6 separate regions of the Homo sapiens genome follow, and regions 1, 2, 4, 5 and 6 are each linked to region 3. Evidence: fine-mapped expression QTL. A gene starts in region 3. Each other region holds a variant in brackets. All regions are shown on one strand. Distances are from middle to middle. Region 1 holds the start of LINC01461 (long intergenic non-protein coding RNA 1461). Region 2 overlaps SPATA1 (spermatogenesis associated 1). Region 3 holds the start of CTBS (chitobiase). Region 4 overlaps LINC01461 (long intergenic non-protein coding RNA 1461). Region 5 overlaps SPATA1 (spermatogenesis associated 1). Region 6 overlaps LINC01555 (long intergenic non-protein coding RNA 1555).

The links. PIP is the estimated chance that this variant, and not a neighbour inherited with it, causes the effect.
Region 1: its variant is fine-mapped to the expression of CTBS in prefrontal cortex (CommonMind, PIP 0.95).
Region 2: its variant is fine-mapped to the expression of CTBS in whole blood (TOPMed, PIP 0.97).
Region 4: its variant is fine-mapped to the expression of CTBS in whole blood (TOPMed, PIP 0.99).
Region 5: its variant is fine-mapped to the expression of CTBS in blood mononuclear cells (TOPMed, PIP 0.95).
Region 6: its variant is fine-mapped to the expression of CTBS in whole blood (TOPMed, PIP above 0.99).

Annotation. Positions count from the first base shown.
Region 1 is chr1:84,618,658-84,623,733 of GRCh38, reverse strand. LINC01461 (long intergenic non-protein coding RNA 1461) reads left to right here and starts at 2,703. Exons shown (of 3, transcript NR_125761.1): 1 at 2,703-2,977; 2 at 4,850-5,001. RefSeq lists silencers at 2,501-2,740, 2,831-2,900. The variant C/A (reference allele first, on the strand shown) is at 2,983.
Region 2 is chr1:84,541,903-84,546,978 of GRCh38, reverse strand. It overlaps SPATA1 (spermatogenesis associated 1), which reads right to left. Exons shown (of 14, transcript NM_001397487.1): 9 at 2,675-2,777; 10 at 1,220-1,345. Among named protein-coding and RNA genes, the nearest start is that of CTBS, 30 kb to the left of the region's middle. The variant A/T (reference allele first, on the strand shown) is at 2,997.
Region 3 is chr1:84,572,360-84,577,435 of GRCh38, reverse strand. It overlaps CTBS (chitobiase), which reads left to right and starts at 2,996. Exons shown (of 7, transcript NM_004388.3): 1 at 2,996-3,197. The coding sequence starts at 3,021. RefSeq lists a silencer at 2,864-2,983 and enhancers at 3,144-3,433, 3,544-3,643, 4,357-4,406.
Region 4 is chr1:84,592,936-84,598,011 of GRCh38, reverse strand. It overlaps LINC01461 (long intergenic non-protein coding RNA 1461), which reads left to right. Exons shown (of 3, transcript NR_125761.1): 3 at 1-48. Among named protein-coding and RNA genes, the nearest start is that of CTBS, 21 kb to the right of the region's middle. The variant C/T (reference allele first, on the strand shown) is at 2,690.
Region 5 is chr1:84,534,792-84,539,867 of GRCh38, reverse strand. All of the region lies in intron 8 of SPATA1 (spermatogenesis associated 1), which reads right to left. Among named protein-coding and RNA genes, the nearest start is that of GNG5, 31 kb to the right of the region's middle. The variant A/G (reference allele first, on the strand shown) is at 2,992.
Region 6 is chr1:84,624,756-84,629,831 of GRCh38, reverse strand. LINC01555 (long intergenic non-protein coding RNA 1555) reads left to right here. Exons shown (of 3, transcript NR_027379.1): 3 at 1-1,602. Among named protein-coding and RNA genes, the nearest start is that of LINC01461, 6.3 kb to the right of the region's middle. The variant T/G (reference allele first, on the strand shown) is at 2,771.

The DNA.
Region 1 (5,076 bases), 46 kb before region 3:
TTCTAAGTGCATAGAGAATAATGGGCTCACCCTCCCACTAGTGAACACTTAAGAATCTGACATCTTCCACCCATTTCTCTGTGTCCCTTGCAAGGGGACAGTCATGCCCTGGGCAATCCCAAGGAACACTCCTTTCCCATCTTCTACTGGAGATGGTGGAAGTACCATCTAAAAGTCTTAGGTGCTACATTCTGGTACTGGCCCTTTCATGGCCAAGATATGTTCCTTTGGGCAAGTTGTTCAAACTCTCTAAGCCTAGTTTTTCAACTGCAATAAAGATGATTCCAGTTCAAAATCTGGGCAAGTGTGAGTTACTGCCACTACGTGCAGTCAAGTTCTGTCATGTTTCCTCCATCAAGCTACCCAGCAGGCTTGGGAGAATCAAATGTAAGGAGGTGTAATGCTACCAAGTTTAGAAAATCTACTAATGCTGCTTCAAGACAACAACTTCCCTCCTTCTAGCTCATTTGAATCCCACAGCAATCAGGAAACATAACTGTCAGGTAATATTTTTATTTCCTTTTGGGATGAGCAAACTAAGCTTAAGCGAGGTTAGGTAATTTACTCAGAAGCACATAGCTAATAAGCAGACTAAGAAGAACTTGGGCCTTTAACTGAATACTGCAGACTTTCTACCCCACTCGCTGACTCTATTAAAAACGCAAACTGGCCAGACCAGGCATGGTCCACCAGTCTTACCAGTGTCACCCAGGTGCTGGCTTGTATTAGGTTGGTGTAAAATTAATTGCGGTTTTGGTCACTACTTTTAATGGCAAAAACTGCAATTACGTTTACACCAACCCAATACTTCCTGATGCCTTTATTTTTACCAAGCAGAAGGGGAATGCACCCCTTCCTCATGCTTCCACACAGGAAAATATACTCTACTAAGCATTGCTGAGCAATGTTGATCTCACTAGAGACTTCATTTCATGGGGATAGAAACATTGGAGAATTTGACTTTGTATCTCCACACACCACATCATCATCACCACCAAAGATGGTTTTTTTCCTACAGGCTCTTCTCTCTGCCTCAGCCTCTATCAGGCTGCAGATGACCAGACAGGGAGAAAAGAAGGGGAGAGAGAGAGAGAGAGAAAGAGAGAGAGAGAGAAAGAGAAAGAGAGAAAGAGAGAGAGCGAGAGAGAGATAGAAGCAGAGCCTAGGATGCTACATGTAAACAGTGAAGTAGATACACCACTCCCAAATCAATGACTGTAATCCAAACTCTAACCACATCCTGCAGAGAGGGGCAGGTTCAGAATTTCCATAAGGAAGAGTGTCACTTAGGGGGCCCAATCTAGCTGGAAGGAATGGGGGTGCATTGTTTTGACACTGCATGTGCAAAGCAAACACATTGTTTTCATTTAGCTTGTGTGCTTATCTGGGGTGACATTGGCAAATCAGAAACATGACTATATGAAAGAGTGTTTGTGTGGAGGAAAAAAAAGACAAAGACAGTGACCAAAGAGACTTCAGCACTCTGCCAGGTGAAGGAAAAAGGTGCAAAGGCCCAGACTGTTCCCCCAGTCGGGAACTCACAGCCTAGGAGGGAGGCATGTAGTCAGTGAAACTCAGCAGGAAGAAGCATGGGTCCAGGGGTTGGGATGGGGGCTGAAGTTCCATCATATGATGAAATACTCTCTGAGCATTCTAGTTTTTTATTTTCCTATTTTGAGACGTTGTTTCACTCTTGTTGCCCAGACTGGAGTGTGATGGCACGATCTCAGCTCACTGCAGCCTCCGCCTCCCAGGTTCAAGCGATTCTCCTGCCTCAGCCTCCCGAGTAGCTGGGATTACAGGCGCCCACCATCATGCCCAGATAATTTTTCGTATTTTTAGTAAAGACGGGGTTTCACCATGTTGGCCAGGCTGGTCTTGAACTACTGACCTCAAGTGATCTGCCCCCCTCGGCTTCCCAAAGTGCTGAGATTACAGGCGTGAGCCACCGCGTCCGGCCCGAGCCTTCTAGTTATGAAAGTGAACTTTGAGACCAAGTTTTCTTCCTCCCGGGACCCACTGACCACCGCCACCTACTTACCCCCAGCCAACAGCTGAGGAGGAAAAGACAAGCTTTCTTGGGAACCAGAGCAGTTTATCAAACCAAGAAGCAGCAAGGCCCCGTTTTTAAGGCCAGGGAGCCCCTACTCCCTGCCATTTGGCCGTTCTGTGTTCTCTTCAACGGCGCCAGTTCGACACGGGGCCTGACTCCTCGACAGCATTGCCTGGTTGGTTTAAATATATACTTACCATGATATATAATTGTGTATAGAAAAAGACACTAGGAGAAAATACCCTAAACATGTGTTTATCTCTGAATGATGAGATTAAAGGTATTTCATTTTCTTTTTTATGCTGTGTTTTCTACCCCCCCAAAAAAATTTTTTTATAATGAATACGCATTACTTTGGAGAATAGAAAAAAAAATTGTTTTTGCTTTAGAAACACACACACACACACACACACACAGGTGGAGGGAAATAAGGAGGGAGAGGCAAGGAGGTGGGAAATAGCCATAACCCAGTCTCAGGAAGCCACGCGTGGCTGACCCAGGCTGGCAGCCCCTCCCGCGGGGATAGGGGGATCTGAGGCCCTCCCTGCCCGCCCGCTCGGCCGCCCGCGTGCCCCGCCCCTCGGCCCCGGCAGAGGGCGCTATGGAGCCGGGCGCTGGTGAGTTCTAGCCCTTCGCCAGGAACGGCGATTCTCAGCGTCCTCTCCGGTGGAGGACAGAAGGCATCCCAGGGTCGCGGGAGAGCCAGCGCAAAGTGGAAGGCACCTTGTACGCTGTGAAGCGGAGATGCAGATGTTACCCTAACCAGAAGCCCACCCCGCCACAAATACTGGAGCGCCCAGCATGCGTGCGCCACCCGCTTCCCTGCAGAGGGCGCCGCGGGCCCGCCTCGCCGAGCGCGGGGTGAGATCCCAGTAGCCCAGAGCAGCCCGCGGGGCAGGCCCGGGCTGCCGCGGACTCCTCTTGGTAAG[C/A]CTCCTGCGCCCAGAGCCTCCCCGCTGGAGCTCCACCCTCGCCCGGAGGCGGCTTGTTCACCCAGCGTGCGCCCAGGGGAGCGCCTGAGCCTGACGTGATCCCATTGCCCCCGAGACCCCAAGAGTGATTGCATTGGTTTTGCAAAAAAGGAAGGACGGAAGGGAGGGAGGGAGATAATACATAATAATATGTAGTTGTGAAAAATTCAAATAACGTGTATTTAAAAAATCAGTTCTTTCGGCCGGGAGCTGTGGTTCACGCCTGTAATCCCAGCACTTTGGGAGGCCGAGGCGGACGGATCATGAGGTCAAGAGATTGAGACCATCCTGGCCAACATGGTGAAACCCCGTCTGTACTAAAAATACAAAAATTAGCTGGGCATGGTGGCAAGCGCCTGTAGTCCCAGCTGTCTGGGAGGCCGAGGCAGGAGAATTACTTGAATCCGGGAGGCGGAGGTTGGAGTGAGCCGAGATTGCGCTACTGCACTCCAGCCCGGCAACAGAGCAAGACTCTGTCATAAATAAATAAATAAATAAATAAATAAATAAATAAATAAAAATTAAAAATCAGTCCTTTCTGCTGACTCCAAGTTTTAGAGCCTTACTCCTCTAATGCAAATTTTAAAAATCTCTGAATCTGCCTATCATCTATAAAACCCCTGCTTACCTCTGTAAGCCCCCTACTTCAAGATAGCCTGCCTTTTCTGCTGAACTAATGTATATGTGCCCTGTATTGATTTCTGTCTTCGCCTGTAACTCCTGCCCTCCTGAAATGTATAAAACCAAACACATGCGGCTGCCTCGGGACCACTTACTCAAGGCTTCTTGGGTTGTTTTCCGGGGGCGGAGGTTACTCATACTGGCTTGACTAAGCCTCTCTTTCAGATATTTTACAGACTTTGATTTTTCTGTTTACAGTATTAATCAAAATGTTAACATTGGTAACTTCTAGGGGTAGAATTATGAATGATTCTTGTTTCCTGAATGTTCTACAACATTCAGAAATGGTGTATTTGGGGTTGGGGGAGAATTGTTACTATTTTTAAATCCCATCTACTCTTGGGGCTGTCCTCATTCTACATAAACAGACTAATTCCGGGTGGCAGCTCTGTCTTTTTATCGTGCACGGAGAGATTAATCATCTCCCACCTACACCAAGCAGCACTTTAGGTTCCCTGGGTAACAGAACTGAAGGTTTGTATCTCAGTGACTAATGATTATAATGCCCTTGGCTACTTCCTGTATTTTTACCAGCTCCAGGAGCAGAGAACGTTCCCTGCTGGCTTCTGGGAAATAACAAACACAATGGTGATGCTATCAAGTCTCTGTGAATTTAAAAAAACCTTTACAAAGGGGCATTCTTTCTGTCTTGTTTTTTTCTGTTTTGTTTTGTTTTTTGTTTTTGTTTTTTTGAGATGGAGTCTTGCTTTGTTGCTCAGGCTGGAGTGCAGGAGCATGATCTCCGATCTCGGCTAGGTGCAAACTCCTTCTCCCGGGTTCAAGCGATTCTCCTGCCTCAGCCTCCGAAGTAGCTGGGACTACAGGCGCCCACCACAACGCCCAGCTAATAATGTTTCTATTTTTAGTAGAGACAGGGTTTCGCCATGTTAGCCAGGCTGGTCTCAAACTCCTGACCTCAAGCGACCTGCCCGCCCCGGCTTCCCAAAATGCCGGAATTACAGGCATGAGCCACTGTGCCCGGCCGCATTGTTTCTTTTTGAATCTTCAAAAGCAATTTTTAAAATTTTCTTTGATTTTTGAAGGCAGAAAACCCAAGTTCTGATTTGAAGCTTGTTCTAATCAACCTAGAGTCTTTTTGTCTTTGGGAGCTATATAGACATTACAAGTCTCTTCCTTTCCTTCCCAGCAGAAAAGCCTTTGATGCTGTATTCTTAGCACATGGAACCCTAAACCAAAGCCTGCACTGGGGCATTTGTGAGAAGCGTGTGTGCAAAGCCTGAGAGACTCCCCTTTTGGGCATGCTGCTGGGCAGGGGTGTTCTGGTTTGACTTTGTACATGTAAGTGACTTATTTTAAATACATGTATTTTTTAATCACAATTTTAAAGGTAAATTAAAATGGTTAACATTTTGG
Region 2 (5,076 bases), 30 kb after region 3:
AACCCAAAACGGAGGCCTCTCAAATAATTTAGCAACTCTCAAGCCACCATCATGTACTGTCTTCATCCTGCCTCATCAGTCCACCAGTCCTAACAACACTGTTTCTAATTGTACTGCAAGAAAACTTACTTAACTTCCCTCATTCATTCACTTTTAAAAGCAAGGCACACACACACACATATCAAAAAATTAAGTACAGAAGAGACCAAGGGACTCAAAGTAGGCTTCTACAGTAAGTGATATATAAGGTGATCTTGACTGACTAATAGGAAATAGGCAGGTAAACTGGGAAGAGGGTACCTCAAGGTAAGAGGAGAAGTAGATGGCAGAGGGAAAAGCATGCCCGAAGACCTAGAACCAAGAGTGTACTTCAGATCCTAGCATATCCAACACTTTTCCTGGAAGCCTCTCTTGATCTCTTCCATCTAATTTAGGCGTTCTCCCTTTGTATTCCTATCCATAGAACTTTGTAATTCCTTTATCATAGTTTTCATCAAGTTTTTTTTTTTTTTTTTTTTTTTGAGGCAGAGTCTTGCTTTGTCACCCATGCTGGAGTGCAGTGGCACAATCTCAGCTCACTGCAACTTCCGCCTCTGGGTTCAAGCCATTCTCCTGCCTTAGCCTCTGCAGTCACTGGGGCTACAGGTGCCCACCACCACACCTGGCTAGGCTAATTTTTGTATTTTTAGTAGAGACGGAGTTTCGCCATGTTGGCCAGGCTGGTCTCGAACTCCTGACCTCAAATGATCCGCCTGCCTCGGCCTCCCAAAGTTCTGGGATTACAGGCATGAACCACTGCGCTGGCAAGGATGTATCATTGATGCTTAACTTGCTTATCATTTCCCCACTGGACTGTAAGATCTATGTGGGCAGGGACAAGATTGTGTCTGTCTTAATAGTGTCTCCTAAGCCCCTAGAATAGTGGCCAGATTCAATAGGCATTTGATAAATGAATAGAAGAATTAATAAACAAGTTAATGAGTTTCAGTTATGAAAATATTTGAGTTTTAATTTTAAACCCTATGTAAAGCATTTATTCTATAAAGTAGAGTTGCATAATAATTTCATGTTTTCTATATTGAACTTAATCATGTACCACTTAAACTAAAATAGTAAAACAGTAAATATTAATTATAACTTTATTATTTATTCTAAAAGGATCAATTCTGTAAAACTTAAGTTTTCTTTATAGTGATAAAAGGTATGTAATAAACTTTACCATGATATCGTTTTAATTTGCTTTGTTCAAATAGCTTTTCAACCGTTTTTACTAGTTCTTCTCTATTTCTTTCCAGATACCTTCTTTCTTCCTTTACTTGTTTCATTTGTTTGATAATCTTCTCTCCTAAAGAGATTATAACTCATATTCATCAATGTCTCAAAGCTGAAAGATGGCTCATATCCTAAAATATGGAGTGTAAAACTTAAAAATGTCTAAAGCAGCAAGAATAAATTTTATCCCAAACTGTTTTTCTTGCTACAGTATAGCATTTACCATGTGGAAAATGCAAAGGAGTCATTTCAGTTTCCAAGAGTGATATATAAGGAGATTTATAAAATAGTGTGTTTTTTCTGCATTTCATATATGTGTAGAAACTAGGTAAAGCTCAAGCAGTTATGCTGATATTCTTTGGTTTAACTCTTTTGGTAAATTTATCTGGGATTCAAAATTATTGTACTTAAATCGTACATAGAAAATGTATATTTTAGGATTATATATATATGATATATATATGATATATAAATATATATATATTTTTTTGAGATGGAGTCTCACTCTGTTGCTCAGGCTGGAGTGTAGTGGTGCAATACTGGCTCACTCCAACCTCTGTCTCCTGGGTTCAAGCGATTCTCCTGCCTCAGCCTTCTAAGTAGCTAGGACTATAGGCAGCTGCCACCACGCCTAATTTTTTTGTATTTTTTTGTATTTTTAGTAGAGATGGGGTTTCACCATGTTGGCCAGGCTGGTCTCGAACTCCTGACCTTGTGATCCACCCACCTCAGCCTCCCAAAGTGTGGGATTACAGGCATGAGCCACCATGCTTGGCCAGAATATATATTTTAAAATGAAATAATGTTGGTGACTAAACATATGTAGTAATAAATATAAAATCCCTGGGCCAGGTGCTGTGGCTCACACCTGTAATCCCAGCACTTTGGGAGGCCGAGATGGGTGGATCACTTGAGGCCAGGAGTTTGAGACCACCCTGGCCAACATGGTGAAATCCCGTCTCTACTAAAAATGCAAAAATTAGCCAGGTGTGGTGGTGCACGCCTGTAATCCCAGCTACTCGGGAGGCTGAGGCTGGAGAATCGCTTGAACCCGAGAGGCGGAGGTTGCAGTGAGCTGAGATCACGCCACTGCACTCTAGCCTGGACAACAGAGTCAGACTCTGTCTAAAAAAAATAAAATAAAAATAAAATTCCTATAATTTAACTTTTTTATTGTTGTAGAACATATTACATAACAAACTGTACCATTTAAAATATTTTTAAATGGTACAGTTCAGTGGCACAACATTCACACTGTTGTGAAACCATCACCACCACCCATCTCCAGAACTTATTTATCTTCTCAAACTGAAACTCTATACCCATTAAACAGTAACTCCCCATTAACATTATTTACTTTACCTCACAGAATCATCTGTACTTACGATTGCACTATACTTACTTTCAGTTTGTAATAAAGATATATCAGTTATTCCTGAAGAAAGAACAGGTTGACAAGGAAGTGAAGGGTGATCTGGTAGGGTGATGTACTCTTTTTCAGCTGTCTGTAAGCAAACGTGAAAATGAGTAAGATCGGCTACACTGTCACATTCTTTTTTCACTTGCCCGTAGGTATTTGATAATGCAAACCAGAAATGCATTCTTTTTACTTAGTGGTGATGAACTCCAAATTTTGTATTTATAGCTGCAGATTCTCTCCCATGTTCTGGTCTCTGTATTCTATTACTTGGACATTATAAACAAGTACTTCAAACTTAAAATTT[A/T]AAAAAAATCTGTTATTTTTCTTTCTAAACATGATTTCCTTCCAAGATTTCTGGTCTCAGTTACCTGTTATGATAACTTTAAATATTTTCTAAGATGCCTATTAATATTTTTTTCATCTTGAGTCAATTTTGATTATATTTGCTTAGAAAATTGGTAGTTCTGTCACATGTCAAAATTTTAGCAGATAATTTTACATTTTATTCTAATATATCTTATCTCCTCTGTGTTTGTGTTTCTGTTGCCTTCATCTTTCCTAATTTTTGTGTTTCTACCTGATATGATTTGGATCTGTGTCCCCATCCAAATATCATGTTGAATTGTAATCCCTAAGTGTTGGAAGTGGGGCCTGGTGGGAGGTGATTGTATCATGGGGGCAGATTTCCCCATTGATACTGTTCCCCTGATAGTGAGTTTGTTCTTGTGAGATCTGATCATTTAAAAAGTGTGTGGCATCTCCCCCACTCCTTCCTCCTGCTCCAGCCTTGCTCCCCCTTTGCCTTCCACCGTGATTGAAAGCTCCCTGAGGCCTCCCCAGAAGCAGATGATGCCATGCTTCCTGTACAGCCTGCAGAACCGTGAGCCAATTAAACCTCTTTTCTTTATAAATTACCCAGTCTCAGGTATTTTTTATAGCAGTGTGAGAACAGACTAATATCTACCCTTTTTGATGAATTACCTCAAGCCTTACCATGTTGATGTTTCTCCCACTATCACTTTATCGATCTTGAATTGTTTTCAATTATGCTTCGGTACCTCATTAGTTTTCACTTTTATCTTCATCAAGCTCTCACTTCTATTTTGTTTGTCTTACAGTTAGTCCCCGTTATCTGTAGCTTCACTTTCTGTGCTTTCAGTTACCCACGGTACAGTACAATAAGATACTTTTAGAGAGAGAGAGGCCACATTCACATAACTTTTATTATAGTATATTGTTATAATTGTTCTATTTTATTATTATTGTTTTTGTTATTGTTTACTGTGCCTACTTTATAAATTAAACTTTGTCATAGGTATATATGTACAGGAAAAAACACAGTATATATAGTATATATAGGGTTGAGTTCTATCTGTGTTTTCAGGCATCCACAGGGGGTCTTGGAACGACAGATAAAGGGCAGAGTACTGTATTATTTTTCTAGCTTATTTATTTTGTTATGTTATAAAGTTGAGTTCCCACAGGATAATGGCAGCCACCTAAATTAGAATTGCTCCACAAATCTTCCAAACTACCATAAAAAGAAGCCAAGTAAAACCACCCAAATTTATGCCTACAACATAATTTGGGCACAGAATCCTTTACATGTAAGTGAGGAAATAAAGACTACTAGATCAGAGTGTGGTCAGGAGCCCACATCTGAGCAGAGAGTCAGATATGGACTATGTGTCAGCACTGTACATAAATAATAGCAAACACCAATCACGAGTTAGCCTGGAAAGAGAGGGCTCTACCTGAAGTGGAAAAATAGAGCAAAGAAAAAAAACCTGGTAGATTCTATGAGGAATTCAAAAGAAAGGATTTGAAAAACACAGGGAGTCAGAGGCAGTAATCATGGTAAGACATAGCTTCTGGGAGAGAAGAAAATGCTTTGAAAGGGAGAGATGTCCTTGGGAGCCAGTTTGGTAAGAAAAAAGAAGAAAATGGCCAAGGCAAGAGCTCCACTGAACTAAGCTAGTGGAAAAGAATCCAAAGAAAACATACCCATTTCCCCAAAAGGCCCCATTTACTTAAAAAAAGAAACATAAATAACTGCATTTCTTGGGAGGCCAAGGCGGGTGGATCACCTGAGGTCAGGAGTTCAAGACCAGCCCGGCCAACATGGTGAAACCCCGTCTCTACTAAAAATACAAAACTTAGTCGGGTGTGGTGTCGCACGCCTGTAATCCCAGCTACTCGGGAGGCAGGAGAATTGCTTGAACCTGGGAGATGGAGGTTGCAGGGAGCTGAGATCGTGCCATTGCAGTCAGGCCTGGGCAAGAGAGCGAGACTCCATCTCAAGAAAAATGAAAATAAAACAACAACAACAAAAAAACAAACAAACAAAAAAAACTCAAAAACCTGCATTTCACTACAGCAGCAGA
Region 3 (5,076 bases):
TGTGACATTCTGGAAAAGGCAAAACTATGGAGACAGTGTAAAAATCTGTGGATGCCAGTGGTTAGCAAGGAGAGAGGAATGAATAGGTAGAGCACAGATAATTTTGAGGGCAGTGAAACTATTCTGTATGATACTATAATGCTGGATACACATCATTATACATTTGTCAAAGCCCATAGAATGTACAGCACCAATATAAAATTCAATACAAATATGTAGGAATTCCTCATTTGGTTAGTATGCAGAAAAGAGTTACCGTAACAGGCCTAAGACTGCGATCTTTAGAAAGGCCTGCTTCCTGAAGGTTGGCCTGTAGGTGGATTTGGGAGTGTTCCTGCTGTTCCCTGAGTCTCTAATGAGCTTCCATGGCAGACAGCCCTTCACACATGTTACAACGTGATGCTTGTGCTTGGCCTCCTCCTGTCTTCTTCCTGTGCACTTTTTCCCTTTGCTCTTTTGCTTCATATTCTTCTGCTGTAATAAATCTTAACTGTGAGTACAACTGAGTCCTATGAGTTCTTTTAGTGCATCACTGAACCTGGAGGTGATCTTAGGGATCCCTAACACAGGTAGATATGTGTTTTCTTCTGTGTCACAGAATACAGTCTGATTCTATGAGTCAGAAGGCTCTTTTCCTTGAAAACTTGATTCAGTGCAACCATTCATGTTAAAAACATAGTTACATTTCAGTATCATGAGGGATTGGTTCCAGGACTCCCAGATACCAAAATCCATGGATGCTCAAGTCCCTTATATAAAATGGCATAATCTATGCACATCCTCCTGTACTTCAAATAATCTCTAGATTAATTATAATAATACGATGTAATGCTATGTTGACAGTGCTCTTGCCGTATTTTTATTTGCATTTTTAAATTGCTGTATTATTTGTTATTTTTAAATACTGTTATCTGACATTGGTTAAAACCATGGATGTGGAACCTCTGGTTATGGAGGTTCAATTGTACTTTTTTTTTTTTTGAGACAGGATCTTGTTTTGTCACCCAGGCTGGAGTGCAGTGGCATGATCATAGTTCACTTCAGCCTCAACCTCCCGGCTTCAAGCAATCCTCTCATCTCAGCCTCCCGAGCAGCTGGGACTACAAGCTTTTACCACCGCACTGGCACACAGGGCTAATTTTTTGCTTTTTATTTTTTGTAGAGACAGGGTCTATGTTCCCCAGGCTGGTCTCAAACTCCTGCCCTCAAGTAATCCTCCTGCCTTGGCCTGCCAAAGTTATGCAATTGCAGGTGTGAGCCACAGTGCCTGGCCTAGCTTTTCATTCTGAAAACGCGTGTTCTTCAGTCCTGGAGCCTTGATAATTACTTATTTCTTTTCTTTTCTTTTTTTTTTTTTTTTTTGGAGACAGAGTCTCACTCTGTTGCTGAGGCTGGAGTGCAGTGGTGTGATCTCTGCAACCTCCACCTCCCAGGTTCAAGCGATTCTCCTGCCTCAGCCTTCCGAGTAGCTGGGATTACAGGTGTCTGCCACCATGCCCAGATAATTTTTGTATTTTTAGTAGAGATGGGGTTTCACAATGTTGGCCAGGCTGGTCTCAAACTCCTGAGCTCAAGTGATCTGCCCACCTCGGCCTCCCACAGTGCCGGGATTACAAGCATGAACCACTGTGCCCAGCCCAAATTACTTATTTCTTCTTATTTGTACTACGCTGCTTCTCAAGCACCTTTAAGAATTATTTATTTCATCCCCTCTGTACTGCGTTTTCCAATTTTCTTATCTTTCAGAGTTTTTGCTCTACATTCCTCAGTGTTATCTTCTACTAATAGTTTTTTCACTTCTTTCTTATTTCTATTAACTTTTAAAAATCCCCTACCCCTTTTATTGCACCCTGTTGTGGCTTCATCTTCTCTTATTTTTCTGGGGCTATTATGAGAATTTTTAAAAGTGTTCTCCCTGCAGCATCTGCTTCCTCCATATTCCTTTGTCTGTTGTTTGGGTCCCTTCTTTCTACATTATTGGATTTTTTTGGTTGCTGTCCATGATTAAAAGTAAAAATTAAAAAGTACAAAGAGAGGAAGCTCCAAGTAGATAGCTGGTGCTTTTAACTTTGAATTTCACTGTAGGGTGATCTGGGTGTATGATTTGTCCAGAAAACCCGATGTCAGTATCTTTGCTCAGCCTCTTAGGTTAATCAGATAGCGAGGGGTTTCAGTTTTCAGTAGGCATAAAGCCACTTATTCTCCGTTTTAGGTGGAATACCCACTCAGCAGAGAATTTATCCCCTTCAGGGAATTCAGCCGGGGTGGGAGCCCGTGGTGGGAAAGAGGGGCAGCTGCCCAGAGACATGAAGCTGGAAAAAGGATCTAGCGATCAGAGTCCTTGAGCAGCCTTTGACTAATCTCCCCCTTTTCCGATTTACCTCTCATACTCATACTTGTGCTCTCCAGCTTCCAACATTTTGTTGCTGTTATCTCTTTGTCCTTGTGTTTAGGTTGTTAAACTTGATTTTTAACAGGAGAGTAGGCAAAATTAGATGCTTGAATTCAAACCACGATCTTAACTAAGACCTGATATCCGTAAGTAAAAATTTTTGGTATTCCAGCTTTCTTTTGAGTAGCAAAAGAAAAACAAAGTCTTTTGGCCACTCCAACCATGTTACTCAGTAGGCCCTTCCAAAGACACCCACTTCTCCATTTTGGGGATCCCCTTGTACCTTCAGACTCCACAAGGAGTACACGACCAGCCACGACAAAACGAGATGCAGACTATTGGGAGGACTATAAACGGTAGGGGTGATACCCATTTGAGTCCACGAACGGCCCTCTCGGCGCCGCAGACACTGGCTGTCCCCCGAGACGCTCCAGCAGCCACTTAACTTCACCCACCTGTAGCGCCCGGGGACGCTCGAAGCCCGACCTCCCACGCCCGCCCCGGAGCCCCGCCCCTCCCGCCCCTCCCCGCCCTTCCCGACTCTCCCCGCCCCTTCCTGCCCCGACGCGCAGCAGGCCCCGCCCACCCAGGCGGTAGGAACCCACTCCGGCCCGCTAGACCTGCTGCTATGTCCCGGCCGCAGCTTCGACGCTGGCGCCTCGTCTCTAGCCCGCCGAGCGGCGTCCCGGGTCTAGCGCTGCTGGCGCTGCTGGCGCTGCTGGCGCTGCGGCTCGCGGCCGGGACCGACTGCCCATGCCCGGAGCCTGAGCTCTGCCGCCCGATTCGCCACCATCCAGATTTCGAGGTCAGCGCCTTCCTCTGCTCCTCTAGGTCTGGGCTTCAGGGCACGAAGAGAAGTTAGGGTAGAACGGAGCCCTAAGGAGAGGTGCCGTGGGCGCCGAAACCAGCTTTGACCACTCGATGAGGGCCTTCCTGTTTACGGATCCTTCAATTTATAGATGAGGAAGCTCGGGCTCAGAGAAGTTGAGTAACTCCTCAGGCCTCACAGCCTGTAAGTGCCTGCGTAGGCAGGCGAGAGTTCAAACCAGATCTGCCTCCTAAGGCAAGCTCCTTTCATTCCCCTGCTGTGCCTCTGCGGAAGCACTCTGGGTGTAAAAAGCAAACAAGGTAGGATAATCCATTTATGTTTCCAAGGAACGAGGATTTCGTTTGAAAGAATCTCAGCACTCCAACAGTACATTAGAATGCAGAGTATTTTGCTTACCTTTAGTTTTCTATACCTGCTAGCCCTTTCCTTTAAAGTACCTCAAAACCACCCATGAAGAGTGGTAAAAAAAATAGCTTTCAGTACATTTTCCTTCTATCTACATAACAATTTGTAAGGCTTCTGGCAACTTTAATCAAACACCTTCTGGAGCAATATTAAAACCACCTGACTGCCCACTTCGATGACTGAAAGCAGGAATTGGATGACATCAGGAAGGTCCAAAGGCTTAATTCAAAGAACGATTCTTTTGTAGAAATAGGCATGATTCCTAGTTCTTAATCTAGTACATTAATCTGAGGCAGAACACTTAGATGCCAGTAAAAAAGTATATATACATGACTTAGGAGAAGAAATAAAAATGGTGAAAGTGTTTATGGAGAACCTGCCTAGTGTGGAAACCTAACATCTTATTAAAAGAAAGACTTCAGACAAAGTAGGATAACCTTTTTTATTTGAGCAAAGAACAACTTATGAATCGGCAGTACTTAAACCAGAAGGGGTTCAGAGAGGTCTGCTTTAGTAGCATGGGCTTTTATAGGCCGAACAGGGAAGCAAAGGAAAATAATTACTTGGTTGGCTATGACTGTTTGCCTTATTTAGCTATGACTTGGTGGAAAATTACTAGTTAGAGGTTAGTTGGCAGTTTCTGATAGGTTAAGCTTAAGTTTCCTTTCACTGTTGACCTTGGGCTGGAGTTTGCTTAAGCAGGAAATCCAAGGCAGTTGGAGCTGTTTCAGCATAATGGCCTCCCAATTAAAATGTTTTATACAATCTGAGGCCCAGCGCGGTGGTAGAGGCAGTGGGGACAGTAGCTGTAAAAGTTCAACCAGACATTTCTTAATTTTCTCAATCTCTTTTTGAGATTGAGAAGCACTTTGTGAGGCCAAGGTGGGTGGATCACTTGAGGTCAGGAATTCGAGAACAGCCTGGCCAACATGGTGAAACCCCGTCTCTACTAAAAATACAAAAATTAGCTGGGCGTGGTGGCGGGCACATGTAATCCGAACTACTTGGGAGGCTGAGGCAGGAGAACCGCTTGAACCTGGGAGGCGGAGCGGGAGGCGGAAGGTTGCAGTTAGCCAAGATCACGCCACTGCACTCCAGCCTGGGCGACAGAGCAAGACTATGTCTCAAAAAAGAGAAAAAAAAAAAACCTGAAAGATTTACTGTAGTACCCAATACTTAGTGGGTTAGGCAATATCTGTGGGCACTTTGAAAACCAACTATTCAAAGAAGCAAAATTATGCTTATTTGTATCTTCATGGTAAATGGTCTTTTTCTCTACTGGCGTTTTCTATGTTTTTCAAACACAAAAACTAGACTACATGGCATTTTCCCCTTATATTTTCAATTAGTTCACCCAGCTTTTTTTTTTTTTAAGGATATCTGTTATATCACAGGCTCTTAGTATTTTTTAAACAAATAGAATCTTAATTATCAGAACTAAAATAGAAGT
Region 4 (5,076 bases), 21 kb before region 3:
CTCAGCCCTTGCAAAAAAAGGTTGAAGACTATGTACATGAACGACATTCTAGGCTATCCTCAGGTGGGTTCCAAGACTAGGGCTCCCAGCTTCTTCCCTGGATCAACACCCAATGGGCGTGGCACTCAATACCTGCTCTTTAATCAGTGCTGTACTGATTTGATCAGTACTTTTCAAATTATGTCCTACGTTGTCTGAGATGTTCTACTCAGGAGCCCTGGTGAGGGATGATGTGTGAGAAAAATTCAAGTATCTCCTCTTCTAAATTGAGAAGTCCTAGCCTTTGTCTTAAAATTGATTTTGTGTGTTAGGCTTTCACTTTTTTATTAGATGGTAAATGCTCCATTCTTCAAACAACAATGATAGCTCAGGAGGCCAAGAATATGTGTTCTGATTTGTTCCTGAATGTCACTGCGTCTAACATGAGACTCTGCTTCCACAGGCACTTAACACATACTTATGAGACTGCTTTCTCTCAACTTCATTTCCACATGGAAACATTTGGAACCGAGTTTCCATTCCTGTGACTTTCATTGTGGGAAGACAGAAAAGAACCCAGCCCAGATTTTTCATTAAGCATGTTTAACACAATAATAGTGAGATGAAACTGAGGGTGAGAGGTTTTAAACCTGTGATGTTGTGCTCTTTTATGTAGGAGAAACAAAGTTCTGTTTTGCCTGGCATCATGGGAGAACTGTGATTGCCTGTTTGATATTGTGTAGATAAGCTAAGCTTGCACAAACTATTGAGATGATTGCCTGGCATGGGACATAAAGGAGTCATTAATTTCATTCCTAAGTGACAGGAAAGCAATAGCCATGCCTCTGGTTGGTTTGTACTTACACAGAGAGAAGTCTACAAAAGGGAGAGCTTCACTTATATACAAATGAACTCTGAAGAGCCACTGAAGTGCCCTGATCACTGAAGTTGTAACCTAGCAAGTGACCCAGCCTTCACTGAGCTGAATGAGGTTGCCATTTCCCAATTAAAGTAGGACCCGGGATGGTAGAACATCAAGGATCAGGAGATTTTCATTTTCAGCTCTACCGCTATTAGCTGTGTGACTATGAAAAAGTCATTTTGCCTGTTTAGGCTTCAGTTGTATCGTTTGTAAAATGGGAGTCATAATAACTCCATCAAAAGGTTATTGCAAGAAATAAATATCCCAAAATGACTACCTGACATCACAAATGATCAATTTAAGGTTGTCATTTCATTGGAAAAACGTGGTCAAATCGGTTGATTTGTGTCTGTGGCCCAAAGAAATTGTTACTAAAGTATTCATTTTTCCTCATTATTATGATTGGAAAGTGTCCTCTCCAAGATTCATGTTGGAACTTAATCTCCAAAGCAATCCTATTAAGAGGTGGGGTCTTTAGGAGGTGATCCGGTCATGAGGACTGCTCCCTCATGGATGGGATTAAAGCCCTTAAAGAATAGCCTTCACACATGGTTTGAACCCTCTTTGCCCTTCAGCCTTCTGCCATGTGAGGATGTGGCACAAAGGTGCCATTTGGGAGCAGAAACTGGACCCTCACCAGACACCAGACCTGCCAGAGTTTAAGAGCATTAGAGGCCACGGTAAGGACTCTGTATTTAATTTGGAATGTGATGGAAAGTGGTAAGATTTTTTTTTCATTTTTCGTTTCTGTTTTTGTTATTTGTTTCAATTTTTTGAGATGAGGTCTCTCTATGTTGCCCAGGCTGGACTAGAACTCCAAGGTTCAAATGAGTCTCCTGCCTCAGACTCCTCAGTAGCTGAGACTACAGGGGTGCACAACCACACCCACCTGGAAAGTGGTAAGATTTGATTTATGATTTTGAAAGATACTTCTGGCTGCTTTGAGGGAATAAGAGGTTCAAATAGAAGGCTATTACAGCCAGCCCAAAGAGAGGTGATGGTTATTTGGACTAAAGTAGTACAGGAAGGAGGACCTTGCATGGTTTTTCATCATAAAGTTCAATGCTGTAATCAGGGACTGTTAATATGAAACCATTTTTCTCATGCTCAACCATAACATGGGGCTCTATAATGAAAAAGAAAAATTCAAGTAGAAAAATTGGATTCTAATATTCCCTATCATGTCTCTATTATTTTTAAATATTAAATATAATTTTATATGGAAAATTATGTTTCACATAACACAAGTTCGTGGCCATGGAGGCTGCTGTTGAGGTGGCAGCTGCTGCTGCTGTGTCAGAGCTCGAGGTGTCACTGACCTGCTGCCGCTTTTGCTACTGTCTTTGCTTTTGAAACCTTTCATTTTTTGAATCCTAAAAAACCAAAATATTTTTCAAGAATATAATAGGACACAAAATCTTTTCACAGAATTTACAGAAGTGCCACTAACAGTCTGGAAATGTTTCTCTGACACAGTTTGTGTGTATGAGTGTGGGTGTTTTATTTTTAAAGCTTTGAGAGTATAATCTGTTATTTTGAAGGAAGACGCACTCCTCAAAAATAATTGGGGTTTACTTGATGTAAGATCAAATCTTTAGGAAAGGTTTTTTGTTGCCTTTTTTTTAAACTTTAAGTTCAGGGCTACATGTGCAGGATGTGCAGGTTTATTACATAGGTAAACGTGTGCCATGGCGGTTTGCTGCACACATCATCCCATCACCTAGGTATCAAGCCGAGCATTCATTAACTATTCTTTCTGATATTCTCCCTTTTATCTTCTCCACCCTC[C/T]GACAGGCCCCAGTGTGTGTTGTTTCCCACAATGTGTCCTTGTGTTCTCATCATTCAGCTCTTACTTATAAGTGAGAACATGTGGTATTTGGCTTTCTGTCCCCGCATTAGTTTGCTGAGGATAATGGTTTTCAGCTCTATCCAAGTCCCTGCAAAGGACATAATCTCATTTTTTATGGCTGCATAGTATTCCATTGTGTATATGTACCATATTTTCTTTATCTAGTCTATCATTGATGGGCATTTAGGTTGATTCCATTTCTTTGCTGTTGTGAATACTGCTGCAATTAACATATGCATGCATGTGTCTTTATAATAGAATGATTTATATTCCTTTGGGTATATACCCAGTAATGGGATTGCTGGGTCAAATGGTATTTCTGCCTCTAGGTCTCTGAAGAATTGCCACACTGTCTTCCACAATGGTTGAACTAATTTACACTCCCACCAACAGTGTAAAAGCGTTCCTTTTTTTTCCACAACCTTGCCAGCATCTGTTGTTTTTTGACTTTTTAATAATAGCCATTCTGACTGGTATCTCATTGTGGTTTGGATTTGCATTTCCCCAATGATCAGTGATGTTGAGCTTCTTTTCATATGTTTGTTGGGCACATATATGTCTTCTTTTGAGAAGCATCTGTTCATGTCCTTTGCCCACTTTTTAATTTTTTTGTTGTTGTTGTTAATTTATTTAAGTTCCTTGTATACCTTTGTCAGATGGATAAATTGCAAAAATTTTCTCCCATTCTGTAGGTTGTCTGTTCACTCTGATGATAGTTTCTTTTGCTGTGCAGAAGCTCTTTAGTTTAACTGGATCTCGTTTGTTGATTTTTGCTTTTGTTGCAATTGCTTGTGGAGTCTTCATGATGAAATCTTTGCCCATGCCTATGTCCTGAATGGTATTGCCTAGATTTTGTTCTAGGGTTGTTCTAAGGTTTTTATAGTTTGGAGTTTTACATTTAAGTCTTTAATCCATCTTGAGTTGATTTTTGTGTATGGTGTAAAGAAGAGGTCCAGTTTCAATTTTCTGCATATGGCTACCCCGTTCTTCCAGCACCATTTATTAAATAGGGAATCCTTTCCCCATTGCTTGTTTTTGTCAAGTTTGTTGAAAATTAGATGGCTATAGGTGTGTAACCTTATTTCTGGATTCTTTATTCTGTTCCACTGGTCTATATGTCTGTTCTTGTACCAGTGCCATGTTGTTTTGGCTACTGTAGCCTTGGTAGTATAGTTTGAAGTTGGGTACTATGATGCCTCCAGCTGTGTTCTTTTTGCTTAGGATTGTCTTGGCTATTCGGGCTTTTTTTTGGTTCCATATAAATTTTTAAATAGTTGTTTCTAATTCTGTGAAGAATGTCAATGGTAGTTTTATTAAAGCATTGAATATATAAATTGCTTTGGGCAGTATATGGGCATTTTCACAATATTGATTTTTCCTATCCATGAGCATGGTATGTTTTTCCATTTGTTTGTATCATCTCTGATTTCTTTGAGCAGTGGTTTGTAGTTCTCCTTGAAGGGGTCCTTTACTTCCCTTGTTAGCTGTATTCCTAGGTATTTTATTCTTTTTGTGGCAATTGTGAATGGGAGTTCATTCATGATTTGGTTCTCCACTTGCCTGTTGTTTGCATACAGGAATGCTAGCAATTTTTGCACATTGATTTTGCATCCTGAGACTTTGCTGAAGTTGCTTATCAGCTTAAGAAGTTTTGGGGCTGAGAAAATGGGGATTTCTAGATATAGGATCATTTCATTTGTAAACAAAGATAGTTTGGCTTCCTCTCTCCTTATTTGAATAGCCTTTCTTTCTTTCTTTCTCTTGCCTGATTGCCCTGGCCAGAATTTCCAGTACTATGTTGAATAAGAGTGGTGAGAGAGGTCATCCTTGTCTTGTGTCAGTTTTCAAGGAGAATACTTCTAGCTTTTGCCCATTCAGTATGATATTGGCTGTGGGTTTCTCATATATAGCTCTTATTATTTTGAGGTATGTTTTTTTAATACTGAGTTCATTGAGAGTTGTTAACATGAAGGGATGTTGAATTTTATCAAGTCCTTTTCTGCATCTATTGAGATAATCATGTGGGTTTTGTCTTTAGGTCTATTCATGTGATAAATCACATTTATTGATTTGCATATGTTGAACCAACCTTGCATCCTGAGGATGAAAGCTCCTTAATTATGGTGGATAAGCTTTTTTTTTTTTTTTTTTTTTAAGACCGGGTCTCATTCTATCACCCAGGCTGGAGTGCAGTGGCGCAATCTTGGCTCACTGTAACCTCTGCCTCCTGGGTTCAAATGATTATCCTGTCTCAGCCTCTTGAGTAGCTGGGATTACAGGAGTGTGCCACCACTGAGACAGTGTCTCACTCTGTCCCGCAGGCTGG
Region 5 (5,076 bases), 38 kb after region 3:
TAAATAGCAACACAGTAATAAAAGGAGATTCTAACATACCATTCTCAGTCCGAGACATAGAGAATGTGGAAAAAATTAAGAATATGGAATACTTGATGTATTCAGCAAGGTAAACCACAGACAAGCCACAAAGTAGAGGAAGATATTTGCAACACACATAAACATCAAAGGACTATCTTCCAGAGCATATTAAAAACTCCTACTAACCAGAAATAAATGGCAGACAACCCAATAGAAATACTTAAAACAGGTAACCCCCCCAAAAAATGGTTATCAAAATGGGGTCCATAAAATATAAGGGTAACCAGGGAAATTAAAAAATTCAAACTGCAGTTAAATAGCATTGAGCATCCACCAGAGTGGAAAACATTTTAAAGTGTGAAGACAGTATGTATTATTGAGGATGTAGAGTAACAGGAAATGTCTTGGATTCCTAGCGGGAGCGTAAATTTGTATAATCATTTTGGAATACATTTTGGCATTATTTAAGTTATAGATAGACATTTTCCAGCAATTCTACACATAAGTATATATTCCTCTCTTGTTTGTGTGTGCTGTTTATAATAGGTAAAATTTGGAAACAATAAAAGTATCCAGCAACAATATAACAACAATTATTTGCTGAAGATGGTATGCCTTTGCTCCCAAACCCAAGGGCTTAGAGCCGTGATTCTCCTACCAGGGCTTGTACAGACTCCATTCAGCATTCCAATCTACTATACATCAAGCATCACTGGATAATCTGGACAGACATTAAAACACTAGTGAGCTGGGTGCAGTGGCTCATGCCTATAATCCCAACACTTTGGGAGGCTGAGGAGGGCCGATTGCTTGAGTCCAGGAGTTGGAGACCAGCCTGGGCAACATGGAGAAACCCCAACTCTACAAAAAAATACAAAAATTACCTGGGTGTGGTGGCATGTGTCTGTAGTCTCAGCTACTCAGGAGGCTAAGGTGGGAGGATGGATTGAGTCTGGGAGGTCAAGGCTGCAGTGAGCTGTGAACACTGCACTGCATTCCAGCCTGGGCAACAGAATGAGACCCTGTCTCAAAGCAAAACCAAAACCAAAACCAATAACCCCACAAGTGGCAGCATTGCTTGCAATCCCTCTGGGATCACCTTACAAGCCTTCTCTTGTTTAAGTCCCACTCAAAGTTGGCAGGCTTCTGATTCAGTTGGTTTAAATAAAAAATAGAGCAGCACATCCTAATGCAGTAAATCTCTCTACAAATTCCAAAAAAGGTCCACAAAGTGCTTTGTTTCATTCTCAATAGTAGCTGGGGCAAGGGGATACCTCAACATGTCGCAGACCATGGAGCTCCCTGAAATTTCTCTGAATTGATAGACTCCTAAATTTTCTTGCAGCTTATCTCCTACCCCCTAAGAAACATATGTCTTACCTAAGGTATCTAGATTATTTGGTATTTCCTGTTTATCAGGTCCAAGGGGATCATGATATGGTCAAGTTGCCTATAAACTAGATTACGACAAGGAGCCAGAATTGACACAGCCCTTAGGCAAAACAGTGAAGGTCTACTGCTATTCCTATTTGCTACTTTTGGTTTTCTCTGCTAATTGGGATGAAGAAAAAAGCATTTTCCAGATTAAGAATGGCATAATAGGAGCATCAGGCTGTAATAATTTGTTCTAATAAAGAGAGGATGTAAGGAGTAGCAGCTACAATTGTCACCACTTGACACTAAGGCCCATTAATCTTCTCCACAGACCAACTAGGTGAGTTGAATGTGGCTATGACAGGAATAACCTTTTCTGCCATTTTCAAGTTTTGATCATGGCACAAAACCCACAATTTGTCCAGGAGGTTGGTAATGCTTTGGTTTACTATTTTGGTAATGAATAGGCCATTCCATCATATTTCACTTGGCCCTCTCTACTATAACATTCCTTATTGCCCATGCTGCAAGCATCAGGGAGGCAGTATGAGGATTCTGCCATTTGCTGAGTAAGTCCTTCAAAGTATACATTCATGAATTAAGGGAATGGCTACAGGGAGAATTTGCAAAGCCATTCAGCACACCAGAAGACTGATTTAGCTAAAACTTCACTTATTATCTGACCCCTCTAAACCTCCACCCTATTGGTGGAACACAGAGTTATTCAGGTCCCCAACGATCAGAATCACATCAAAGCCATTGCCATGAATCCTGAAAAGTATGGGTACCTCCCTTTCTCCATTGTAGTCATCTGGGTAAACAACCTCTCATCCCCTTAAGGAAGGTAAAGGAAATTTAGGAAGGTAAGGAAATTTAGTCCATATTTGTGGCTGAGTGACAGGGTTTTTCCTCAAGGATACCTGGCCTCCCCTTCACTCAATAAGTTCTGGGTATGTAAACTGGCTAAGGTCTCGTAATTTAATAAGGGGATGTGAATCTTCATGTGGTTATTCAAGGTAGACGTCTATTTGTGAAGACTAAAAATAATTTTTGGTTTTACAGACCAATAGCTTACTGGTAGCTTCAGTAAGCTATCCAAAGCTTATCCAATAGCTTATCCACTTCAGTCTCAGGAACATCATGATTAGTCTTAGGGACACCTTGGCAATTAACTATTGTCAAGGATTTCTTAATCATACATCCTTATGATCACTCTGGTACTGTTTTCTCTTATATAGTAAAATGCTGTAAATTGGCTTCTTCGGGGATACTGTCATCTCTAAAGAAATCAAGTAGGCCGGGCGTGGTGGCTCACGCCTGTAATTTCAGCACTTTGGGAGGCCGATGCAGGTGGATCACGAGGTCAGGAGTCCAAGACCAGCCTGGCCAAGATGGTGAAACTCTGTCTCTACTAAAACTACAAAAATTAGCTGGGCGCGGTGGCAGGTGCCTATAATCCCAGCTACTCGGAAGGCTGAGGCAGGAGAATCGCTTGAACCTGGGTGGCAGAGGTTGCAGTGAGCTGAGATGGTGTCACTGCACTCTAGCCTAGGCAACAGAGTGAGACTTCATCTCAAAAAAAAAAAAAAAAGAAAA[A/G]AGAAAAAACAAATCAAGTATAGTCCTATCTTCATTCCATGTGACACAAAACAGCCACTATAAGGTTTTTTAAAAGAATTCTGGGGTTGCCTTTCCAATATATTTCCCCAATGTCTGGTTAAAGAATTAAGTGGGCCGGGTGCGGTGGCTCATGCCTGTAATCCCAGCACTTTGGGAGGCCGAGGCGGGCGGATCACGAGGTCAGGAGATCAAGACCATCCTGGCTAACACGGTGAAACACCGTCTGTACTAAAAATACAAAAAAATTAGCCGGGCGTGGTGGCGGGCACCTGTAGTCCCAACTACTCGGGAGGCTGAGGCAGGAGAATGGCATGCACCCGGGGGGCGGAGCTTGCAGTGAGCGGACATAGCGCCACTGCACTCCAGCCTGGGCGACAGAGCGAGACTCCGTCTCAAAAGAAAAAAAAGTGGATATAAATCTCCTCTTAACATTTTTATATCCCCAAGTCTTCGGATTTCTTGCTCTACTTTTTAACAAGAAATTCTTGGCATTCTAAATTTACTCAGTATGAACCACCATATTGTCCAGGTTTCTGTCAGCCTCACTCAATTTAGCAAAATGTTTTTTACCACTCACAGTTGCTGGAGCTAGCACATTAAATCCAGAATCTCTGATAAGTGTATCCATATTATTAAACTTGAGCCAATTTAAAGTTATATTCTTTCATTCCTGCTCTGAATCTATTTCCAATAATATTTTTCTAAGTTTCTACTAGCATGAATTAACAAAATATTGCAGTTCTTTTGCAATAACCAGTCTGAGATTCTCATTTGTAAAAGTTTTTGGCCCATGTCACACTTTCTGTACCAAATACTGAATCAGTTCAGTGCAGGTTTAAGCAGGAAGAAATGTAATAAAGGAAATTAAGTGTATCAGAAAGACTGGAGGAGCAGGTTCTAGGTCTGGTCTCCTAAAATGATGTTTCCATTAGTGAAATTACCATTGTTGAGGCCATCACCAGAACTACGCTGAAAGCAAGAAGCCATCATTATTATTGCCATTACAACTTCTCACACTCAGGAAGCTGGAGGAAAAAACACTTAATTCATAACAAAAATAGAAAGAAAGAGTAAAACTATTGTTATTCACAGATGACATGAATATGTACGTAGAAAGTCCTAAAGAATCTACAAAAAAAAAACCTGATAGAACTAATTGAATTTAGCAAAATCTCAATAGATGAGTTCAATGTATAAAAATCAATTACATTTCTATAAACTAGCAACAATTAGAAAATAAAAATTTTAAAATACCATTCTATAGAAGCTTCAAAAATACCAAATATCTAAAAATAAATGTAATATTAAGATATAAGAGCAATACACTAAAACCACAGACACTGCTGAAAGAAACTAGTGACATAAATAGAGAAATATATTGTGTTCACAGATTAGAAGATTAAGTATAGTTAGGATATAAGTTTTCCTCCCAAATTGATTGACAGATTCACGGTGATTTCACTCAAAATTCCAGTAGTCTTTTGGTAAGAAATTGACAAGCTGATTCTAAAACGTATATGAAAACACAAAGAATCTAGAATCACCAAAATGATCTTGAAAAAAAATTGACTTGGAAATCTTACGCTATCTGATAACAATAACTACTTATAAAGCCTCAGTAATGAAGATAATGTGGTATTGGCGTAAGGATTAAAAAAAATCATTGAGCAGAAAGGGAAGCTAGAAGTTGTCCTAGATCTTATAGAGTCAACTGAGTTTTGAATAATGCAATAGGAAAAATAAAGTCTTAACAAATGGTGTAGGAGGTGGGTATCTGAGGATCTCAACTGAACCACAACCACAACCTCATTCTGTACATAAAATTTTGAGATTCGTGGTTCTCTTCAAATTACCTCTATTTAACAAAAATTATCACTGAGAATGCAAGAGAAAGGAGGTCTTGATTGTCTGAGGAGAAGGTATGACAGAGTTGTCTAGAAGAATAGTAATGGACCAAGAAAATGTAGTATATTTGTTGGCACAATTAAAGACTCATTTGAAGTTTGTGATTTATTAACTATGGTTGGAATTTTGTCCAATGGGTATGAAAGACATAACCGTGGA
Region 6 (5,076 bases), 52 kb before region 3:
CCGCCCCATAATTAATTTTAAGTTAATCTCCACATTTCATTATCTTGGGCTAGATTTCGGGGGAGGGGCCTAATTTAGCTGGCATGTGCCCCATTGGGTGAATCGAATAAAAGCATAGCTGCCCTGGCATGGATCTGTGAACAAAAGTTCTCTGAAAAGAAATTTGGAAGAAAGACTTCATTCAGGAACAGTTCACAAACTTTCTGTGTAAACCAGTTACTTTCCAGAGAACAAAGGGAGGATCCTGGTTTTATAGTAAAAGTTCATGCTCAGGTTGCCAATCAGGTCCATTTTATGAAAATGAAGGCTTTAAATTTGCTTAGTTCTGTTTGGTTGATGCAGCTGCATTCTGATTAGTGGTTAGAACTGAGCCCTAATTGGTTCTTTCAGATGAGCTCTGATTGGCTGCTTTAGGTGAGCTCTGAAAGCCCCACTGTTAAACTGAGGTTGGGGGTTTCCAGGGAAACTCCGAGTATATGAGTTCTAGTCAGCAAATGGCCTGGCCACTTGGCTCTCTTTAAAATTTTGGCCCAGTTAGGTACTTGGGATCCATCTTGAAGGATTGGCTCTTGAAGGATTTGTTCTGAGAACACTTGTGAACTTGAGAGGCCCAGTAAGGCAGAGTGAAAACCAGAACGCTTGGCACCTATCAGTTAGCACAGGATCCTTCCCTGGAACATCAGCATCCCTTATAAGTGTGTCTAACGGCCAACTCGTAGACAGAGCTATTGTTAATACACTGTTCTGAGTATCCCTCTGTGAACACCTTCATCTGGTTGATACAGGAAAATTAAGGAAGACAAAGTTTTGGGAAAGTGATTGAAATCGTGGAATAATCAAAGCAAATCAATGGCAGCTTGTGTTTAAAATTAAAAACCAACTGTCAAGCATGGCATTTACCTAAAGTAATTTCCAAAAGTAATCAACAGAGTGAACAACACCCAGTGGGCCAGGACCATGTCAACGTTGGCTCATTTTCAGAAACAACATGGTGTCAGGGCTCCATGTTCATGGACACCATGAGGGGAGTCTCCTAGCAATGACCCTCTTCTCTCCTGCAGGAAGTCCAAGGTCCTTTGCATGGCAGTCTTATCCCCAAATGGCATTTGCTTTCGACCCATGGTATTTCCATATTCCATGAAGAAAACTTTAAAAATATAGGCAAATCACCCTGCAAGTATCCAGAGAGTTTCCAGGGGGTTTCTCACACACACACACACGCACACACACACACACACATGTTTAGTGGGGATCTTTTAGGTCAATACATATAGATCTACATCATTATTAGTTGTTGCTTGGTGGGCCACTGCATGAATGGTTAATAATTGTTTAATTTTTCCTAGTTAGACAATAAAGATTTTTAAAGAATATATCTTTGCATACTTGCTTATTTATTTGATTAGGATAAATTCCTGAAATTGGAATTGTTAAACCAAGAAATACGCATATTTTTAAGGCTTTTGTTATGTTTTGTCAAATGATCCTCAGAAAGAATGTTTATTAATTCACATTTCCACTAGCACTACACGATAGAACTATTGGGTATTTTTTATGCTGTTACCTTTGCTGGTTTTATAAATAAAATATTCTCTTGTTCTTCTTGTCTTTTTTTTTCTTTTACTACTGAACTTGAAGATTTTTTTTCACATTTTCACTAGCCATTTATATTTTTTCTACTTCAAGTCTTTACTACTTTTCAATGAGGCCTATCCTGACCACCCTACTTCAAATTGCAAACCAACCCCCCGACCCCTGACATTCCTGATATCCCTTTACCTTTCTCTGCTTTATCTTTTTTCCTATTGTAATGATCATTTCTAACATAATATATAATATACTTATTTATTAATAAGTACGTCCTCCCCAGCCAAGTTCTGGGAAGTGGAGGGGACTCCGATCACATCGAATATACAGCCTCTTCCTTGGCTTAGATAAGAGACAAGACAAACTCTTATTCTCCTGACACTGCAGCTCCTGTCCTTAGATGACTCGGGGATAGTTATTTTACCTGGACTTAAAGGTTATTCCCAAACTGCAGGGAACATGTGAAATATCATCTGACTTCCTAATTTTTTGTTCATGTATATACATACATACATATACACACACTAATATATATATATATATGTGTGTGTGTGTGTGAATATTTTAACATTTTAAAGTTTATGAAACTGGAATATGTTTTATGCTCAATGTATACATTAAACATACTTGGCTTGTTTTTCTGAAAAGCTGTTATTTATGATTTATGTCCAACTGATTATGTCTTAAAATAATAAAATATATAAAGTGAACCCTAGTGCCACTGACAGTGTTTAGATTACAACTCTAGACCTCTTGAAAAATTGTTACAAGAAGAATATCATTTACTTAAAATTGTTAAAGAAGCATTCTGATTCCTAATGTTTAGTCTCTTTTATTATTTATTTCAGAACAGAGTCATACAATAAATGTTGACAGAGTGTCTACTATATGTTAGACACAGTTCCAGGTACATAGGATACATTAGACTACAGCTGGGTTAGCAAGCTTTTTCTCTCAAGAGCCAGATAATAAATATTTTAAGCTTTGCTAACCGAGAGGTAAAATCGAGAATATTAATGTAGTTACTTACATAATAAGAGAGAAAACAAATTTCCACAATTTTCTTATTGATGAAATTCATAACAAAATAGCAGTAATCAGTTTTAAAGTTACTTTTCTCTACCATCAAAATTAATTGCAAATCTTAATTGGTTAATGTCAACTTGCAATGAGATTTTACATA[T/G]TTTGTCCTTAAAAATGTCCTTTCACACAGATAGGTTCTACCTAATACCAACATCTTTCCATGAACGTATCATTTTAATTGAACATATTTATTGTTTGGAAGGTGTTTATAGAATTAGATTATTGGCTTAATATTTGTCATTTAGGATGCCATTACATTCCAAATTAATCACTTCCAATTGGAGGTTAGGTGAAGCTCTTTAATTATAAGTTAAATGGACTTTGAAATATGAAATTTTCATTGCATTTGCTTTGAGGTCTGTAACAAATGGCTGAAAGTGCATTGGCAATGTGGCCCACCCAATCTGCAGTGTAGGATGCCAACCTGCATTTGGAAATACAAGGCAAAGGGTTCATTCCACCAGGAGATGGAGTTGGCAATGGAAGTGGTCAGGAATTCAGGTGATGTTCAGGTTCTAGTCCTCACAGCATCTGAGCAGAAACCCAATCCCATGGACCAGGCCAGTGGTTCTCACCCACAGCTATGTGGCAGGAAATTAACTACGATACAGTATTAATGCTTGTGAATGCATTGTTTTTCTAACGTAATTTAGGCCCAATTCAATCGTATCCTTACTGTTATTCCCACACGATTGCAGTTTATTCGTTGTTGTTGTTGTTGTGTTTTTTTGAGAGAGATAGGTATGGTTTAACTATTAGCATGGAGGATGTGTGCTGTGCACATAAACATCGCCATGTGAGGACTGGAGGAAAAAAACACTCACCTGAGATGCAAGACTGCTATCAAGAAATGACCCACTAAATAAAAACAAAAAACAAGAAACAGAAATGACCCACTGCAGCAGTGCTGTAGGAGCTCAGAACTCACCACCTCAGAGACCATGGTAATGGCAATGAAGTAACTCTACATCCCGCATATCCCTGGATCACAGGCTACTGATGGATTGCTGGTGTTGGCTTTCTCCAAACTGGATGGCTCTTGTTTTAGTCCGTTTTCTGTTGCTATAACAGAATACCACAGACTGGGTAATTTATGAAGGAAAGAAAGTATATTTAGCTCACAGTTCTGGAAACTGGGAAGTCCAAGAGTATGGCACTGGCATCCGTGAGGACCTTCCTGCGGCATCATAACATAGCAGAGGGCATGACATGGCAAGAGAGCAAGAAAGCCACAGCTTGCTTTCACAAAAAAAGCCACGATGGTGACATCCATTCATTCATGAGAGCGGAGCCACCATTAATCAATTTATGAGAACAGAGGGATTAGGTTTCCAACACAAAACTTTTAGCGGACACATTCAAACCATAGCAGCTTTTTACCTGCAGGTTGAAATTGATCACTTCCGCATTGAAGTCACAGGATATTCTTCTCATTGAGGTTTGGAAGGAGTTGTCTAAAGCGTTTCTCCTGGAATTCCTGCAGAAAATAGTTAGCTTAACCCATTGCTGCCTGACCCTGGCTGGGGGAGGGTGGTCAGAAATGAGGTACCCCAAATCAGAATATTAGGGTTGCATTGAGTACTTTCTGGAAGCTGCCTGTGCATGTACGTCCACCTTCTGAGAAACCCCTTTTTTCCCTAATAAACTACAAAGGAAAGTGAGGGGAATGGGGGCAGTAGTGCTGATGGCAGGAGAGATAGTAGAAGCTCTGAAAATGCTGCCTCCAGGCCCTACCTATCTTTTGCTCTGCTCATATGTACTGGAGAGAAGAAGGCTCTCTCCTTAAACAACAACCTTTGCAGAAATCCTATTCACAGCTCCCCAAAGGCTGAGAGTGAATTTTCAAAAGATGAATTATTGTACTATATAATTGGCTTAACTTAATATCTGGGTAAACGGAGCTAGCACTGGCTCAGTTTGGCGGGGCTTGCTCTAGGAGCCTCATTTTCTTCTCTCCCTGAGGACAGGATCATGTGCATGATGTCCTTGTGCCCCCACTGTCACCAACTGCAGTGAGAAAGGTAGCTCGGAAAAGGGGTTCTCAAAGAAGCCTACAGCAAAAGGGTTATCCCTCAGGGACAGCATGGTGTGTGCCTGTGTGCACATGAACATCATCTTAGATAGTTCATTTTGTCTGGACACATTGGTTCAGCTACAGCGATTAACTGCATGGTGGCTTGAGCTCTATTCCCGGTGGCTGGGTGTCCAAACTGGTCCTTGAGCAGTGCTCACAGTCACAGGAGCCACAGACTGCAAGACTCACCCCTGAACACAATGAGCACTTAGCACGGGCAGTGAGAAAGCTGTTTATCATCCTCTGCACCTGGGCAAAAGAGACGAATAAATCCTAATGTGAAAGTTCTGACTTTAGGTGAGGTATTTCACCTTATCCTGTCCTCAAAAGTC